Linked DNA regions of Homo sapiens. The protein of the gene in region 1 purifies or fractionates together with the protein of each later gene. This does not show direct contact. Each region holds a gene or a part of one and is shown in the gene's direction. Other genes may lie near its edges.

The links. The genes of interacting proteins can lie anywhere in the genome.
Region 2: the proteins of KCTD3 (region 1) and CRTC3 purify together in Homo sapiens (affinity purification with mass spectrometry, with the first as the bait; one large-scale study listed by BioGRID). This does not show direct contact.
Region 3: the proteins of KCTD3 (region 1) and TRAPPC9 purify together in Homo sapiens (affinity purification with mass spectrometry; 2 studies listed by BioGRID and IntAct, with this or other methods). This does not show direct contact.
Region 4: the proteins of KCTD3 (region 1) and RAD23B purify together in Homo sapiens (affinity purification with mass spectrometry; 2 studies listed by BioGRID and IntAct, with this or other methods). This does not show direct contact.

What each region holds. Positions count from the first base shown.
Region 1 is NC_000001.11:215,617,252-215,622,307, forward strand, and holds the end of KCTD3 (BTB/POZ domain-containing protein KCTD3), read left to right. Parts: intron 1-1,634; coding exon 1,635-1,819; intron 1,820-1,901; coding exon 1,902-2,040; intron 2,041-2,805; coding exon 2,806-3,367; 3' UTR 3,368-4,556; downstream 4,557-5,056. UniProt on the Homo sapiens protein: Accessory subunit of potassium/sodium hyperpolarization-activated cyclic nucleotide-gated channel 3 (HCN3) up-regulating its cell-surface expression and current density without affecting its voltage dependence and kinetics.
Region 2 is NC_000015.10:90,527,752-90,532,722, forward strand, and holds the start of CRTC3 (CREB-regulated transcription coactivator 3), read left to right. Parts: upstream 1-2,171; 5' UTR 2,172-2,320; coding exon 2,321-2,452; intron 2,453-4,971. UniProt on the Homo sapiens protein: Transcriptional coactivator for CREB1 which activates transcription through both consensus and variant cAMP response element (CRE) sites.
Region 3 is NC_000008.11:140,451,245-140,455,769, reverse strand, and holds part of TRAPPC9 (trafficking protein particle complex subunit 9), read left to right. Parts: intron 1-4,386; coding exon of another isoform or gene 4,387-4,396; coding exon 4,397-4,525. UniProt on the Homo sapiens protein: Functions as an activator of NF-kappa-B through increased phosphorylation of the IKK complex. May function in neuronal cells differentiation. May play a role in vesicular transport from endoplasmic reticulum to Golgi.
Region 4 is NC_000009.12:107,320,254-107,324,778, forward strand, and holds part of RAD23B (UV excision repair protein RAD23 homolog B), read left to right. Parts: intron 1-1,729; coding exon 1,730-1,865; intron 1,866-3,636; coding exon 3,637-3,764; intron 3,765-4,525. UniProt on the Homo sapiens protein: Multiubiquitin chain receptor involved in modulation of proteasomal degradation. Binds to polyubiquitin chains.

The sequences.
Region 1 (5,056 bases):
TCTAGCAAATTAGTTGAACCTAAGGAGGAGGCTGTGGGAACCCTGATTTACAGTCAGTCAGTTAGAAGCACAGGCAAAATAACCTGAGGCTTGTGATCAGCCTCTGAAGTGGGGCTCAGCTTTGTGAGACCGAGTCTTCTACCCGTGTGATATGACAGATAGTGTCAGAATTAAATTGAGTTAGAGGACACTTAGCTGGTGTCTGCTGCAGAATCGACTGCTTGCTTGGTGTTTGGTGAACCCCTCCACCCCATTTGGTCACAGAACCCTTTTTTTTGCCAAGGAGTGAAGGACATTCTGCCCCAAAATAGGCCAAATTGGTATATTGATTATTTTGAGGTGAAAACATTAGAGAAATTGTCATTTCAGAAGGGGATAGCTGACCTCTCTCTTCCTACATGCAGCAAGCCAAAAGATTTTCTCGGAGTTTTATCCTCCCTGTACCAGGACAGGAGAGTGGGAACTGGGGGCTGCAGTGGACCTGAGTGAATATGCTTACCTTCCACTAGTTTTACATTGTCCCACTATATATATATATAATGTATATATATAATACATATTTAATATATATTAAATATATATTACATATATTTAGTATATACGTAATATATATTAAATATATATAATATATATGTATATCTTCTAGTGACTCCCTTAGAAATTTACTGCCTCTAGTCAGATTTTCTTTATCCTGTCATTTGTTCTACAGTTTATCATTCTTTGTCTGAATTGTATAAAAGCATCTTGCTGTGGCCACTTCTTTGGACCTCACTCTCTTGTGAAGATTCCCATGTACATGTAAAACTAATAAAATGTATATGCTTCTCTCTTGTCAGTCTGTGTGGTGTCAGTTTGGTTTCTAGATCCAGCCAAGAGCCCACATAACTAAAAGGGCATTTGGAGGTAAACTTTCACTTTCCTTAGAGTTGATTGTTGCATGAGAGTACAGGAAAAATACTTTGGTTTGTTTATTCCTGTATTCACAAACCTTGAGCTCAAGAATGAGACTAGGATAGTCTTTATCACTACATGTGGGCATGTAGGAATTATCTTTTTCCCTCCTTTTTGTCCGGCCTACTAGGAAGCTCATCTAAGCTTCATATTCTATTCCTGTATGCTTCTCAAATTCATGTGGATTGTATTTTTTTTTGTCTATTTTTTTGACCTTGCGTTTGCCTATACTGATTTTTCTTTTTTAATAAACTCCCTCAACTCTTTTGAAGTAGGCTGGGATAACTAATTCAGTCAAGTACAATTCAGTTAGCCCTTACGTGACTTTGGAACAATCATTTGCTGATGTTATCCCATTGTTTCCTGATCCGTCAATGTGGATAAAAATTGTTCTCTCTCAGGTTCTTTTATCTTTTATGAAAATCAACTAAAAAGTCATAAAAATCTTTTTTTGAAGTTGAGTATTATCCTAATGATGGATACAATATGGGCCATCTCCATAGAGCTGTATATTTTTTCTGGTTTCAGATTTTAAAGATTTACACATAAATTTTAAATGATTTTTTAAAAGTCTTTTCTAGTATAACATGTTTGCTTTCTTTCTTTCTGTCTTTTTAGTTTCATAGCTTCTTTTTAAATAATTGCTCATTCCCATCAGGGCTCTTTCTGCTTTTCTTTTGCAGAATATGTGAGATCCAGGCTGTTGACTGTACTACAATATCCTCATTTACAGTGAGGGAATGTGAGGGATCCAGTAGGATGGGCTCAAGACCAAGGCGCTACTTGTTCACAGGCCATACAAATGGCAGTATTCAAATGTGGGATCTGACCACTGCTATGGATATGGTTAACAAAAGTGAAGATAAGGGTAGGTTCTCATACAGAAAGATGTTTGTCACAAGGTTAAGCTTTTCACTTAAGTGATTTTAATGACTATTTGTTCTCCTAAGATGTAGGTGGTCCAACCGAAGAAGAGCTACTCAAATTACTCGATCAATGTGATTTGAGCACATCTCGCTGTGCTACTCCTAACATCAGTCCAGCAACTTCCGTAGTTCAGCATAGCCACTTACGAGAATCAAATTCTAGGTAGGTTAAAGAGTTGGGTATTATAAACAAAATTTATTTCTTTTGGGGAAATTGACTGAAATATTGTAATCACATAGTTGTTCTAGAAAGCCATACTTCTCAAGGTACATTTTAAATTCAGACATTATGTTAACTTTTTAACAGTTTTACCAAATTTCTTGATAGGCATATCTGGTTCTTTTCATAGAAAAACATTTTTACCTTTTAACTTATTTTGTGAATTGCTGCCCAATTGGAAGCCTATTATGTGATCAAGAATTTATTCAAAGGAAATTAGGAAAATTACATGTCACCTTGGTTAGTATGTGAAGCTTTAATTATTGTCCTGTCTCAGGGACAATATTTATCTGTGGTTCTATTATGTTGTCTAGTCTTACATTTAAGCATTATGTAATTTTAATACAAAGTTCCATAATGTCTTTTTAGTTATCATATTGATAAATTCCAAAGTCTGAAGAACCAAGGGCTAAATACTGAATTATGATGGTTTCACATTGGTTTCAAGGATTTTTCCTCCCATCTTTTTTTTAGCTGTTCAAAAATTCAGCATGTCTGTGAATATATGATGGTATTATTTGCATTGGTAATTTTATATACCATCTATATAATAAAGAGTACTTGATAAGTATATTTTTACAAAGAGAAATATGGATATAATACACTTTATGTATTTATATAGTGTGTTTTATTGGTTGTATAATTAATATGTTCCTGAGAAATCACAGAGTGAAATCTGAACTGTCATTTTTAAAAACTGTATTTCAGCCTTCAGCTTCAGCACCATGATACCACCCATGAAGCAGCTACTTACGGTTCCATGAGGCCTTACAGAGAAAGTCCTTTATTAGCAAGGGCAAGAAGGACTGAGAGCTTTCACAGTTATAGGGACTTCCAGACTATTAATTTGAACAGAAATGTAGAAAGAGCTGTCCCTGAAAATGGTAACTTGGGTCCAATACAAGCTGAAGTGAAAGGGGCAACAGGGGAATGTAATATATCTGAGAGAAAGTCTCCTGGAGTAGAAATAAAAAGTTTGAGAGAATTGGATAGTGGATTGGAAGTGCATAAAATAGCTGAAGGTTTTTCAGAATCCAAGAAAAGGTCATCAGAAGATGAAAATGAAAATAAAATAGAGTTTAGGAAGAAAGGAGGATTTGAAGGGGGAGGATTCCTTGGAAGAAAGAAAGTTCCCTATCTGGCGTCATCACCAAGTACTTCCGATGGAGGAACTGACTCACCTGGTACTGCGTCCCCATCTCCTACAAAGACTACTCCATCTCCTCGGCATAAAAAAAGTGATTCTTCAGGTCAGGAGTACAGCTTGTGAAAACTCACCAAAATGAATAGTTGTTTCGTTACATTTAGATGAAAGTTAAACTTTACTGAATTTCAGTACATTAGTTTTTACACTAAAACTTTACAAGATAAAATTGGACTTCATTTAGTATCTTTTTAACAGAATTACTTGGAATAATGAGATACAATAATCATATCTCTTTTGACATTTTGGAAATTTTTTTAATTTTACAAGTACATTTAACAGATCATTTATAAAGCAGGAGTCCATTTTAACACTTACCGACTTTTTTTGGTTTGGAAACATATTACCACGTCTTAATAGGATGGTGCCCATATAGGTGAGCATCCCTTTAGATCATGGGAACCAGCAGACTGCATTCCTAATCTTCATTATGCCTGAGACTTGTCTTACAATGTTACCTTTAAGTGAATCACATAATTGTCTTTGGAACTTGGTCTCCCAACACTTATTGTGATTGCAAAGTGTTTACCAGATATTTGATGAGGTGCTATGTTTGTGAAAAACATATCATGTAATTCAAAAACACTATTGATATTGAATACCAGATACCACTATGTAGTAAGTCTTTTAGGATGATTTTAATTTAGTCGTGCGTCATTTTCTGATTCTCATCATTGGGAGATCTTAAATCTTAGCAAGCATTAGCAATATTAAATGCCAAAATTCCATTGAAACTTTCAAGTTGGAGCAATTGTCTGTGTTTGAAAAGATGAAATAAAAATAATAATCAAGGGCAAAGCTTTGAGTGCCCAGAAGGGAAAGCTGTACCAGTTGCTAACCTGTCTTGTTTCAGGAGCCACCATGTTTTTTTTTCAGTGTTAACAACAATCATGATAATTAAATTAAAACACTAGTTTGTTCACTTGTAGGACTGCAGTTCTGAATTTTGGGTTAAAGGTTTTGGCTGCTGTAAGAATGTGAATTTGAATGTATTTTGAATTGTAAGAGCAAAAGAACGTTTTTGTACAATTTTTTTTCATTTAATTGGAATGATCTTCAGGTTTCTACAAATAGGGTAATTGTAAATTTAAAGCATTAGCATTTATTGGTGAATAATGTATATATCCCCATTCCAAGAAATATAAGTGAGTGAAGTTGAAATAAAATCTTTAAAATTTACTATATTGCCAGTGGTTTCACAACAGTTCTCTTGTATTTATTTATCAATTAAATCAAATAAAAATGATTATGTCAATGCGTTTTCAGTTATTTAAGTAACAGTTCTGTTTAAAGTGTGCTATATATGTTTGTTCATTTCTTTGCTTCTTCCCATAATTTAAAAAAAATGGGGGGAGGGAGAACTTAATATATGTGGAAAATAAGTTATTATCAATGAAAGAAAATATTAGGCAAAGCATAATTTCAAAATTACTAAGATTGTAATTATCTTACACCCTTCTTCCTCTTTATGACAGTTATGTGAAAGTTGGGTGGGCAAGTAAGAAAATGAAAGAAAAAACTAGACTCTAGTGACCAGGAATAAAAGGCCATTAAAAAGAAGATAGTAACTATTATGTAATAGAATCGCATAAAAAGGAAACTGACTATACTAGATTGCATTACAGTACAAGTCAAATCGTTTCTTTCTTTTGCTTACAGGAGATTGAACCTTGATGCAGTGGTTTATGTCTGTCTACTCTGACACTAATTTCTCAGATTGCCCCCATTATGCCTTAATTTTTTCATTATACCTAC
Region 2 (4,971 bases), on another chromosome or scaffold:
AATGTAAAGAAAAATGCTAGGCGCGGTGGCTCACGCCTGCAATCCCAGCATTTTGGGAAGCCGAGACAGGTGGATCACCTGTGATCAGCAGTTTGAGACCAGCCTGACCAACATGGTGAAACCTCGTCTCTACAAAAAATACAAAAAATTAGCCTGCGTGGTGGCGTGTACCTGTAATCCCAGCTACTCAGGAGGCTGAGGCAGGAGAATAGCTTGAACCCAGGAGGCAGAGATTGCAGTGAGCCGAGATTGCACCACTGCACTCCAGCCTGGGCGACAGAGCGCGACTCTGTCTTAAAAAAAAAAAAAAAAACTAGCCGGGCATGGTGGCGCAAGCCTGTAATCCCAGTTACTCGGGAGGCTGAGGCACAAGAATCACTTGAACTCAAGAGGCAGAGTTTGCAGTGAGCTGAGATCAGGCCACTGCACTCCAGCCTGGGTAACAGAGCAAGACTCCGTCTCAAAAACAAACCAACAACAAAAAAAAAGCATGGTAAATAACACAAAATACAACAGAAAAAAAAATCCAATTATAATTAATAAAAATAGCTAAATTCTAGCTAACAGAGATATATTTTCAGAATACATTTTCTAAAAAGTCCAGTTATAGGCTATGTCTGAGAGACAGGTGAAAAACATAATGGAATATTATCATATAAATGAATTGACACAAATATATCTCGAAAACATAATGGAGAATGAAAAAAGATGCAAAATGATTATTCAGTATGGTGTCATTTTTGTAAAGTTTAAAAACAAAATTAGGTATTCCATATAGCATTGCTGGATCTCTACATCATATGTAATAAAAGTATAAAAACACAAACTGGAATGATATGTACCAACTTGAGCACGGTGACTATCTGTGGGGCGGAAGAAGAAATGAGAGTGGGGCCGTCGTTATGACTAATTTTGTATGTCTTTAATAAATCCCAAGTACATGCAGCAAAATGTATTGATGTCTGTTTAATCTTGATAGTGGGGGGCGTGGGTAGTATTAATATTATTTTCCGTACTCTTCCGTAGGCCTCTAATATTTCCCTCTTTACAGAACACTGACACACGCTCAGGGCTCCCCGGGACATCTTTGTGCACATCAACATTTATGCTGAGAGTAGCTTCTGGACTCCAAAGAGGAAACTCCCCGGGCACTGTGGCCCACGCCTGTTATCCCAGCACTTTGGGAGGCTGAGGTGGGCAGATCGCTTGAGCCCAGGCGTTCGAGACCAGCCTGGGCAAAATAGCGAGACCCACCCCCGCCCCCCATTGCTACAAAAACATTTACAAACTAGCCGGGCGTGGTGACCCCCGCCTGTGGTCCCAGCTGGTCGGGAGGCTGAGGTGGGAGGATCTTTTGAGCCCGGGAGGTCAAGGCCGCGGTGAGTCGAGATCGCACCACTACACTCCAGACCGGGCGACAGAGAAAGACATCCATTCACTCCCCCAAAAGAAGGGGAAATTCGCTGAGGCTGAGCGCTGGTTTCCCAAGGTGGGGCTGGCACCTGCTGAAGCTGCCACAGGAGTGGAGAGGCCGTAGGGAGACTTGGAAAGAACCTGGAAAGGGGGCCGGGGCTATGGAGCCAAGGCTGCAGCAGGGCTGGATGGTGTTTGTAGTTTGTGCAGAATAGGAGGCAGTTTTTAAAGCCGAGATACAGCTCTGGTTGACTGGAGCGGGGAGGGGTGGGTGTGAGAGGTCAGGAAACCAGCGGCTGGAGGCCGGGGGCCTGGAGCGGCAGGGCTGGCGGGCAGACGTTAGGCCCCAGGCAAAATGGGCGCACCCCCTGCGGGGGCCCGAGGTGACCTGCTCGAGGTCCGGTCGCCCAGGTTCCACCTGGAGAAGAAAATCTTCGTAATTTGGCTGGGGGAGGGGGGATGCGGGCACAGGCTGTGTTCTCCACGTCGCGTAGACGCAGAGGCCATCCCTGGGTCGGAGAGTCTCCGTGGAGTGGCACCCCAGCGTTCCCCGTACGCCGGGGCCACTTTGTCGGGCTGACGGGGGTCCCTCCAGGTGGCCGCCGGCGGCGGGTCCCGAGCCAGACCGGGAAGCGGGGAGCAGCCCTCAGCCCGCGAGCGTGGGGCCGGGGCAGACTGGAGGCCGGGCGGGCCCCGCCGAGGGTGGGGCGGGGCCGGGCGCACGGGGGCGGACCTCGGCGCGCTCCCGGCCGCTCGCTGGCTCCGGGGCCGCGGCGGCTCCTCTGCCGGGTCGCGCCGGACGACTGGCTTCGGGCGGCGGCCCCGGCGGCCTGTGGACGGACGGGTGGGCCGAGGTACAGGCCCCACGGCCGCCGTCTCCCGCTTCTGCCCGCGCAGAGTCCGCGCCATGGCCGCCTCGCCGGGCTCGGGCAGCGCCAACCCGCGGAAGTTCAGTGAGAAGATCGCGCTGCACACGCAGAGACAGGCCGAGGAGACGCGGGCCTTCGAGCAGCTCATGACCGACCTCACCCTGTCGCGGGTGAGGGCCCGGGCCGGCGCGGGCGGGGGCGGCCACGGCCGCGGGCGGGACCCGCGCGGCGGGTGAGAGGTTGCGGGGCCAAGGCGATGGCGGGGCCGGGCGGGGGCCGCGCCCGGGAACCGGCGGCTGGGAGGGGGACCGGAGCGGCCGCGGCCTCGGCGTTTCCCCGCCTGGCGACACCCGCTAGCCGTTCGCGATCCCGGGCTGAGGTGGGAGGGTCGCCCGGCCCCGTGTGCGGGAAGATGGGCAGGGGTGAAGCCCGTGGAGGCGGGCGGCCGTGCGAGGGCGGCCTGAGGGGGAGGAGGACGAGGAGCCCCGAGAGGAAATCGCAAACAGCTCGGAGGCCGGCCGGGTGGCGCGGCGCGGCTTCTGGTCGCTCCGAACATCCCCCACCATCGAGCCCTGCTGTTCTGCCGGCGTGGAAGGCCGCGGGCACCCCAGGGTCCCACGCGCTCGTGGGGGGAGCTCTGTGCACAAGTCCATCCAGGGCCCGGCCCTGGGGTGGCTCGGGTTGTTGGAACCACGACGGGATTCCGTGTCGAGTGTGAGGCTCTGCTCCTTTTACTCCTTGGAGGTGCTTTATCGGGTCCAGTTTACTTTGTTCGGCCCGGGATATTTAGTGAGAACTGACAAGCGTCGCTGGTGACTGGAGAGGGACCTGGAGGAATGAGTAAGGCGCGAGCCGGGACAAACACCTGGAGAGGTTAGGTAACCGCTGAGTGAGGCAGTGGAGGATGGAGAGCCAACCGGAGTGTCCGCGCAGGGTTGCAGAGAAGGGGGGTCAGCAGGAGTGGGGCTGGCCTTGAGGATCCTGAATGCTGACCTTGGAGGACCATCGGGAGGATGGGGGAGGATCTGCAGATTCTGGGGGACTGAGGCGGGGGAGACAGTTTGAAGGAGAGCTGAGAGCAGAGTTGCAAACCAGCTGAGTTGCAGACACATTATTTTTTGGCCAGCGCAGTGTTTGGGAAAAATTATTGAATCTGTTGCCAGAATTTTTAAATTGGAAGACTTCCACACAAAATCCAAATTTCCGTATTATTTATTTATTATTATTTATATATGTTAAAAATTGGGAGACCTGGTAACACTAATTCTGAATTCCTACATGACAGCTACCGACCTGCTGGAGCTGGGTGATGATGAAAGGGAGCTGAGCTGAGCTCCCTTTCAAATGGAGTAAGAACTCTAGTTTGCCACCGTCCACTCTCTGTCACAGTCCCCCAAGGGGAGATTAGGTGACAGTTGCCATTTATACTCATGATGGTGTTTTCTTTCAGTGAAGTTAAGGAAAAAGTGAAATATTTCCTGTACTTACATTTCTGTTCACATTGAGAAAAAATATATATATAGAGAGAAAGAAGCTGAAGATTTCAAGAAAATGTTTTCTTATACCCTATCAGCTTCACTCATTTTTTACCTGCCTGGCATCCACTGGCATTTACATCTGTGACCTTGGTTAGATTCAGAGATGAACTCGATAAGCTCAGAGCACGTTGAAAAGAATGGGTGGGTGAAAGCTGAGGATTAGTGTTGGGGCCTGTGTTGTTATGTGTTTTTAAATACATACTGTACATTGTTTATGTACAAATACATGCACTGTATATGTCTGTATACCTATGGCGGATCCAATCTTTCACCCAATTCATGAATCTTCTTTAAAATATCCCTGACAGGTGAGGCCATGAGTAATGTACAGACTCTCTTTTAAAAGCAAAAATTTTTCACAGATCCTCACTGTTTACTTACTTTCAAGTAAAAAAAAAGTGTTTACTTACTTTAGAGACCCTGCTATAGCTCAGGGTCTCTTGAATTTAGCAAGCCTAATCAACTGTGGCCCATATGATAATTCAGTCACCACTTTATTCTAATTACTACAAAATTATGGTGTCATTTTGCCCTTCACCTGGTACAGGGAATCATTTACATATTAATTCTGCCCGTGTTTTCTTCTTGGCCAGTTACCAGTAAAGTAACACTGCTTGGCTCCACCGTGTTCATAAACACATCTGTAAATGATAACACTGAATTTGGCTACTAATGTTTGCTTATTTAAAAATCTTAAGGGTTATTTTCATGAAGAAATCACAAAATTAGAACACTTCTCATAGAGAACTCTTAGATTCCCAGCATGTCTATGAAGAATGCGTCTCTAAGGATCCAAAGATCCCAGTTGGAGGAGTATCTGCCTAGTTCATAATTGGTAACTGGGTGGCAGATATACTGACTTTTCATTACTAGCCCATGACAGACATGCTAATTCCTGACTTTTCATTACTAGCCCATGACAGACATGCTAATCGATAGGGCAGACATTACTGATCTATCTAGATGCTCTTTCCCCTCTGAGCCTGTGTTGGGATTCAAGTTCTTCTCTACATGATCAAAGCAATCCTTCAGAGTTGGCCTTACTTACCTATTCACCTAGGCGTTACTTATCCTATTCACCTAGTGGGTAGGATAGACTAGACTGTAGAGGATTTTCTCTAGCTTTAGAAGTCCGGCATTATCAGGAAGCA
Region 3 (4,525 bases), on another chromosome or scaffold:
GTTGTTTTCACTCCTTAGCTATTAAGAATAATGCTGTGCCTGGCCAGGCATGGTGGCTCACGCCTGTAATCCCAGCACTTTGGGAGGCCGAGGCGGGCAGATCACGAGGTCAAGAGATCGAGACCATCCCGGCCAACATGGTGAAACCCCCTCTCTACTAAAAATACAAAAATTAGCTGGGCATGGTGGTGGGCGCCTGTAGTCCCAGCTACTTGGGAGGCTGAGGCAGTAGAATCCCTTGAACCTGGGAGGCGGAGTTTGCAGTGAGCCGAGATCGCGCCACTGCTTTCCAGCCTGGCGACAGAGTGAGACTCCATCTCAAAACAACAAACAAACAAAAAACAAGAATAATGTTGTGCCTGTAATCCCAGCACTTTGGGAGGCTGAGGCGGGTGGATCACCTGAGATCATGAGTTCGAGACCAGCCTGGACAACATGGCAAAACCCTATCTCCACGGAAAATACAAAAATTAGCCGAGCATGGTGGCTCACGCCTGTAGTCCCAGCTACCCGGGAGGCCGAGGCATGAGAATCGCTTGAACCTGGGAGGCAGAGGTTGAGGTGAGCTGAAATCCTGCCACTGTACTCCAGCCTGGGTGACAGAGCGAAACTCCATCTCAGAAAAAGAGGAATAATACTGCTATGTACATTCCTGTACATGTTTCTGGTGTGGACACATGTTTTCAGATCTCTTGGATTGCTGGTTTTATAGTAGCTCTATGGAGGAACTACCAAGTTGAAGATACATATTTTTGCTGTTTTAATACCTGTATTAGCTTAGTCTCAGATACCAGAACTGGCTCAGTGGCAGGTGTCTTTTTTTTTTTTTTTTTAAAGAGTCTTACTTTGTCACCCAGGCTGGAGTGCAGTGGTGTGATCTCAGTTCACTGTAACCTCCTCCTCCCTGGGTTCAAGCGATTCCCGTGCCTCAGCCTCCCAAGTAGCTGGAATTATAGGTGCATGCCACCAAGCCTGGCTAATTTTTGTATTTTTAGTAGAGAAAGGGTTTTGCCATGTTGGCCAGGCTGGTCTCGAACTCCTGACCTCAGGCGATCCACTCGACTTGGCCTCCCAAAGTGTTGAGATCACAGGTGTGAGGTCAGGTTGTGTTTTTTTTTTTTTTTTTTTTGAGAGGGAGTCTTACTCTTATTGCCCAGGCTGGAGTGCAGTGGCGTGATCTCGGCTCACTGCAACCCCCATCTCCTGGGTTCAAGCGATTCTCCTGCCTCAGCCTCCTGAGTAGCTGGGATCACAGGCATGCGCCACCACGCCTGGCTAATTTTTTGTATTTTTATTAGAGACCGGGTTTCTCCATGTTGGTCAGGCTGGTCTCCAACTCCTGACCTCAAGTGATCTGCCTGCCTCCGCCTCCCAAAGTGCTGGGATTACAGGTGTGAGCCACCACACCCGGCTGATTATGCTGCTTTTTAGATGAGACGATAGTTTTTATTTTTAAATCATTTTTATTTATTAATTTTTTTGAGATGGAGTCTCGCTCTGTTACCCAGGCTGGAGTGCAGTGTTGTGATCTTGGCTCACTGCCTCCTCCACCTCCTGAGTTCAAGCAATTCTCCTGCCTCAGCCTCTGGAGTAGCTGGGACTGCGGGTGTGTGCTACCACTCCTGGCTAATTTTTGTATTTTTAATAGAGATGGGGTTTTGTCATGTTGACCAGGCTGGTCTCTAACTGCTGACCTCAAGTGATCCTCCCGCCTCTGTCTCCCAAAGTGTTGGGATTACAGGTGTGAGCCACCGTGTCTGGCCGAGATGATACTTCTAAAATAAGGCCCTTTGTTACCTGCGGTGGGCCGCGCTCTCCTCCTCTGTAGAATGAAGGCTTCGGTGTTTCTCAGCTTCTGTTAAACCTGTGCCTACTTTTGAGAAACATGAGCGCTCCAGTCTCCCCCGCTCAGTATTTTGATATGTCCTCCGAGGGGTTTTATGCCTCTTTGTTGGAAGGTGATGTGATTTTGGTTCTTTCGAAGGTGGTTTTTGTGTGCAGAAAAGACTCTTTAGGGAATCGTTGTGGGGAAAGGGCAGGAGAGAGTGGGGCGTCGTCCTTGAGAGCGTGAGCACTGGAGTCAGGGACTTGGGCTGAGTCACACACATGTAATATACTTGTGAACCGTTTAGATCCTGGGCAGAAGCAAGACATGTTGGGAGGCTAGGGTTTCCTTTTTTTAAAATTTAATTTTGTTCATACTTCTCTATCCATGTGTATTTTTGAAGTCTGTAGAGGTGGGGTTGTGATGTCCAGGATAGCCCCCGACACACAGTCCTCCTCCTCTCCGTGCAGGTGAGAAGCTTGCCATTAGAATTTCACAGAGGTCTTATAGCAATGTCACTTTAATCTTAGTGTCACCTGGGAGGGTTTTACTGCCACGATCTCTGCAGTCAGGCTTTGGTGACCTGAAGGTTATGCAGTTTTGGGCTTCCTATTTAAGAAAAAGAAAACAAAATTAAAAATGCAAAATTAGATAGAGGGCCATGGAAGGGGCCTGAAGCTGAACCCCATTAGCTCATGGTACAGCTGCCTCTGGCCATGGGGACCATGGCCAAATCCCCTCAGGAAGTGTCAGCCCACTGATGGGGACAGTGGAGGTGTGTATCGAGGCATCTTTTTCTTATTTGATACAGAGAGCTCATTTAATCTCCCTAACCTTTAAAAAAATTAGACTTTTTATTTGAGACTATAGTAGTTGTAGCTCCATGTGCATTTGTCAGAAATAATACTGAGGGATCCTATATACCTTTTGCCCAGTTTCCCCCCGTGGTGCCATGTTACAAAACCACAGTATGTTATCACAACCAGAATGTTGACTTGCTGACACCTTGAGGTATGTGTTACTATCCTCATTTTTATTCACAATGAAACTAGGGTTCAGGGAAGCACACAGGCTTGCTCCAGGTCACCCAGATCGTGCGTGTAGAGCTGGGAGTTGAATATCGGCCCTGACTTCCAGGCAGTGGGATTTCCATCATGACCGTCTGTAGGCTGGGGGCAGCATTCATTGGATTGTTCATTTGTTTGTTTGTTCACTAATCCCTTCAACAAACATGTATTGAGGATCTCCTATGAGCCAGATTCTTTCACGTGGGTCATCTAATTTAATTTTTCCCCAGCTCTGGGGAATCAGGTAATAACGTTTTCTTTTTATATCTGACAAAATTGGCTCAGAGAGGTTATGGCAACTCTCCCATTTATAAAGGAAAGGTGGTATATTTGTGTAATCTCTCCTTTTATGTTAGGCACAATGCTAGGCCCTTTACATTCGCAACCTCCTCAATCTAGATACAGTTTTATAAGGCAAGTTCTTTTTCTTTTAATTCTTTTTTTTTTTTTTTTTTTTTGAGATGCAGTCTGGCTCTGTCGCCCAGGCTGGAGTGCAGTGGCGCCATCTGGGCTCACTGCAAGCTCTGCCTCCCTGGTTCATGCCATTCTCCTGCCTCAGCCTCCCAAGTAGCTGGGACTACAGGTGCCTGCCACCACGCCGGGCTAATTTTTTGTATTTTTAGTAAAGATGGGGTTTCACCATGTTAGCCAGGATGATCTCGATCTTCTGACCTTGTGATCTGCCTGCCTCAGCTTCCCAAAGTGCTGGGATTACAGGTGTGAGCCACTGCGCCCCGCCTCTTTTTTTTTTTTTTTTGAGACGGAGTCTCACTCTGTCACCCAGGCTGGAGTGCAGTGGCGCAATCTTGGCTCACTGCAGCTTTCACCTCCCGGGTTCCAGTGATTTTCCTGCCTCAGCCTCCTGGGTAACTGGGATTACAGGCACGTGCCACCACACCCGGCTAATTTTTGTATTTTTAGTATAGGTGGGGTTTCACCATGTTGGCCAGGCTGGTCTCGAATTCCTGACCTCAAGTGATCCGCCAGCTTCGGCCTTCCAAAGTGTTAGGATTACAGGCATGAGCCACCATGCCCGGCCAAGACAAGTTCTATTATCACCACTATTTTGTAGCTGAGGAGTTCCAGGGAGCCCGGAATTCAAATCCAGATGTGATTGCATGGTGGATTTTTCTTAATATCCTGTTGAGGGGATGGGGGAGCAATTACACACGTGTTTATTCATTCACTCAACAGACATTTTTGAGCACTGACTCTTACTACTCCTGGTTAGGTGGTGAGAATAGAAAGACAAGAAACAGCCCCATTTCTGTAGAAGCTCCATGCTGAGGCCAAGGGACTGAAGGTCAACAGTTACAGCATTATGATCAGAGCTGCGACAGCCACGTGTAGAGCCCTAAGACCTGTTGATGCCACGGCTTTCCTTGGGGCTTCCCCTGCCTCTGGGTAGTGAAGGTCACAGTCACTGCCTCCCAGGGTAGGCTCTCAGCACTCAGGACTCTGTGTCTCACAGCCTCATTTCTTCTCTCTGAACAGGGACTTCAAAATGAGCGTCCCTGACTACATGCAGTGTGCTGAGGACCACCAGACGCTGCTCGTGGTGGTCCAGCCTGTGGGCATCGTCTCCGAGGAGAACTTCTTCAGGATCTATAAGAGGATTTGCTCTGTGAGTCAG
Region 4 (4,525 bases), on another chromosome or scaffold:
GGAATTGTGGAATTAATAATTGTTGTGAATTTGTTTGGTGAGGAGTGTGTACCCTAAACAGATTGTATAAAAGTATTAGCTTTTATGGAGTGGCTTTCATTTACACCTGATTTAGAATTCTGTATAAGTTCAACAGTATCAGTTATTTTGATCTAATAGATGTGGAGTTTTGAGGTATAAAAATACAGAATCATTGTTACCAAATGCTAAAACTGCTGTAGAGCATCAAATGCAAATAAATAGATGATACATGAGTTCATCAAAAACAATTTATAACTAAAATGTTTTTTATATATTTGCTCTTTGTTTCATAGACTGAAGGGGAAAAGTTGCTTTTAACTGTTACTAGTTAAGAGATAGGTTAAGGTGAACGGATGGAAAGAAGAAATGTTGAGCATTTATATAAGAGGCTATGTAATGTGTGAGAATAGAGGTCGATCTATAGCAATAAAGATGAACTTTTTAGTTTAATAAAAGAGAATTTGATGGACGCCCTGGATCCTAAATTTGTATGTAGTTTGTTAGCACTTAAATAACTGCCCATCTGAGTTAAGGGTTTGCGTTGGTTAACTCATTCAAAAACATTGGTTTTAATGCCTGGAGTGACATCTAATCCATGCAGCCATTTTCCTGCTGTGTTACTCTTCATCCTTTATATGTTGTTGCTTTTGGCTTCTGGTTTATTAGGGAATGGAAGCATTTATCATCTTATTCAATTGTAATACTTGGTTCTTTATTCTCTTCAAAATCTATAAGAACTTGATAAAGACTTTTTAAAAATTTTAAATGACAAGTCTATCAATCATGTGCATCAAAATAGGTGTCCCAAAAGAGTTTAGTGCATGCAGTTTTAAGCTCTTAATAACTTTAAAAGATAAGTACTATAAACTTACAAAAGGCATCACCTAAAAACTAAATGGTTTCAATTTCTTTTATATCGATTTTATGAATTTTGAAAAATTAAATTTTTTGAGATACTTTATCTCATTTTTTGAGATACTTTAAGTATCTCATTTATGAGATACTTTAAGTATCTCATTTATGAGATACTTTGACACTTTAAGAAACACTTCACTGAAAAGTACCTCAAATTTATGAGATACTTTCTGAGTGACACTTTCTCAGTACCATGGATCAGTAGGGGAGATCCTCCTGCCTGGCCACTGTGTACCTGGTCTGTATCCATTAGATATTTTTTCCCCCAGGAGTCATTTCAGAACTGTCAAGTGTGCATCAAAACCTCTTTTTGGATTATCTTAAGCTAGAGTTGCAAACTCAATCCTTTTTATCACTGAGTAACAGCTGATAAAGATTTCTAAGAAGTTAAAAAGTCAACTGAACTAATAGGTAGCACAAAAACCTTTGGTTGTGTTCAGTTTTAAGAAGGTACATGTATCAATATTTTTCAAATTTGATGCTAATTACGTGTGCCTGGTAGGTGTCTTATTGAACAACACAGAGAATATTTCCATCATCATGGTAAGTTCTGTTGGACAGTGCTGCTTTGCATTATTATAGCAATGTGGGTTTTTCTATAATGCACCCAGGTCATTTCTAATCTAATTTGAATCCATGCAGCTTAATAATCCTTTACTTTTAATTGAAGCAGACATCTGTTTGATGCTTTTGAAAATCAAACAAGATGTTAAATAGACTATAAATCTTTTACTCTGTATAATATTTAATTTTGCATGATGGGATATCTTAAAGCTTGGAAATTCTATTACAGGGAATCCCTGGAGATAGAGAAAGTCAGGCTGTGGTTGACCCCCCTCAAGCAGCTAGTACTGGGGCTCCTCAGTCTTCAGCAGTGGCTGCAGCTGCAGCAACTACGACAGCAACAACTACAACAACAAGTTCTGGAGGTAAAGCGGAATCTTCTGGATGGGGAGGGAATGGCCCTGAATTTTTAGTGTAAAATAATTTAACCTGAAATACTTCAGAAATGACGTTCATTCCCAGAGCAGTCGAATAATTCGTTAAGTTCTCTCTTCACTAATGTTTGAGAAAGGCCCAAAAGAAACTTTCCCAAGTGGATGTAAAAGGTATCCTTGCTGATATTAAACATCAGTGTTGCAGTTTTGCCGAAGGGCATATTCTGTTTTATTTGTTTTAAGGAAAAGATGCTTTCCAGTTTGTATTTAGTGTTACTTTCTGATGCCATTCAGAATGGTTTGCTCACTTTGTCTCTTACTCTCTCCATAAATGTTACAAAGTGTATGTAATTTCAAAGCCAGCAGGATTTTAGTAATTATACAGCCAAGGAAATGAAACCGTGAGAGGTTTAAAACCTTGTATCTAGAGGAGAAAGCAAAGCTTGAATTGAAGTCTCTTTACTGGGGTGCTGACCATACCCCACACATTGCTATAGGTCTGACTACAGAGCAAAGCCTGGAACCTGCGGTCAGCTTAGGAATTACGCAGTGTTCTCCTTCGTTCGTTCTTCTGTATATTAATAAAGTAATTTAAACTGTTGATCTTGAAAAGGCCATTCTTCCATGCATTTCCTAGCTCTGATAATGATAGTCACCTCTGGTTGACAAAGGTCACTCAGTGCTTTGTGTACAGTCTCCCAAGGACAGGCCCTTTGTTTGTTGTGATTCAGCATATGGGAGTGGAAAGAGATGACCACAGCTCTGCTTTGGATTTGGGGTCCTGTTCCTTTCAGCACTTATTAGGTGACATAGTCTCTAAGTCTCGTTGCCTTCACCTGTAAAGCTGGTATTATATATGGAAGAACAAAAAACCCATGTGCTGTGGTCATTTCAATTGGAATGATTGTCTTCCTGAATAGGAAATTACAACATACATCTAAAAATTCTCTTTTATTCATTAGTAACCTCAAAAACAATTCCTGTATGTACGATTTTTGGTTTCCTATAGCATAACCAGACAAGTACCAGCACCCTGAAAAAGCCAGAAGTTCTGTATTTTATATTTTATTTGGCATTATTAACATTTATTATTGTGAATGGATTTTAGACTGAAGAGTTTAGATATATTAGTACTAGATTGCCATACAGCTTATTTATCCGAGTTTTTGTAGTTCACAAATGTTTGAAAATTAATGGTAATAACCGGAAGTCTTCCTTAATGTAAGTTTGGATTAAAGTTTCTCCTGATTTGCAAAACCTGACCTCAGACTTTAAATATCTTTTTCTTCTTTGGTTTCTTGAATTCCTAGGAATTCAAGCTCAGATTGTGTTCTTTTAGGGGTTTTCATTGTTTATAAAGTAAGTGAGTTTTTGTTTTTGTTGTGGTGTATATTTTTCTTAGGAACTTTTAAGCAACAGGAACAACTTTTAGTACTTTTTATTTTGATAGAACACACACAGGAGACAAGTTTCTAGTATTATTTTATAACGTTGAGTGCCAAGGGCAATTATAGGAAAGTTTGGTTCATATTACAGTCAGCGTTCTGCACTCCCTGCCTTTGCTAATAGGAGTAATTTTTGCCGTATAAAACTTGCAAGTTGGTACAGTTGGAAGATTTCATCATTATTTACTTCATTTTATTACATCTGAGAACTCAAATCATTTTTTCTTTGATAGTGTTTGCTGTCTAAATGTATTATTTAACCACTGTTTGTGTATGTATTTACTGCTTTTGTTTAGAAATGTTTATGTGTATTTTAGGACATCCCCTTGAATTTTTACGGAATCAGCCTCAGTTTCAACAGATGAGACAAATTATTCAGCAGAATCCTTCCTTGCTTCCAGCGTTACTACAGCAGATAGGTCGAGAGAATCCTCAATTACTTCAGGTGACTAATCAGTGTCAGTTTCACAAGTGATTTAGAGTGTGTCACAATTTGAAAAAGTCCATGAACGGTCCTTCCCCTCCTCAAATACAACTCTGTATTTGAGAATGTGAATGTTTTCTTCCAAGCTACACTTAGATATTGTAATCTAGATAGGTGTACTAAAAAAACAGTTGGGATATGGAGGTTGGGTTAAATTAAGTTGACCAAATAGTAGTAAGTTTGGGAAACATTTTATATTTCCTTTTTGGAGATTCCCACTACACATTAATATGTTAAAGAATTTGGGAAGCTGTTTAACAGAGAAACTGCCTAACTTTAAATCACTTTTCACAAGCTTATTACTCAGTTCCTTTTTCTTAGGAACTTTTAAGCAACAGGAACAACTTACTCTTAGAAAAAATAGCTGTGGGGCTTCTTTAGTGATCAGATCACCAAGTATTTGAATTTTATACAGCATTTTAATGCCCACTAGTGTGGAAGGTAAAAAATACATGCAAGTATTAAGAATAAGTTCTATTCTTATAGTCCCACAGTAGTTTTTTTTGTTTGTTTTTTGTTTGTTTTGTTTTTTTAAGCACAGGAGGCTCAGAGCACTTAAGAATTTGAATTTCTTCACTGTTTACTTTGCCCAAAAGTACTGAATTTCTTTACTATTGTATAAGAAATCACATCCTTCCAAAGACTGAATAATCCAGAATCACTAAATTACGTTTGCAAAAGTGTAGCCTTTTCTCTTAGTAATATTTAGAATTTCTCTGTTC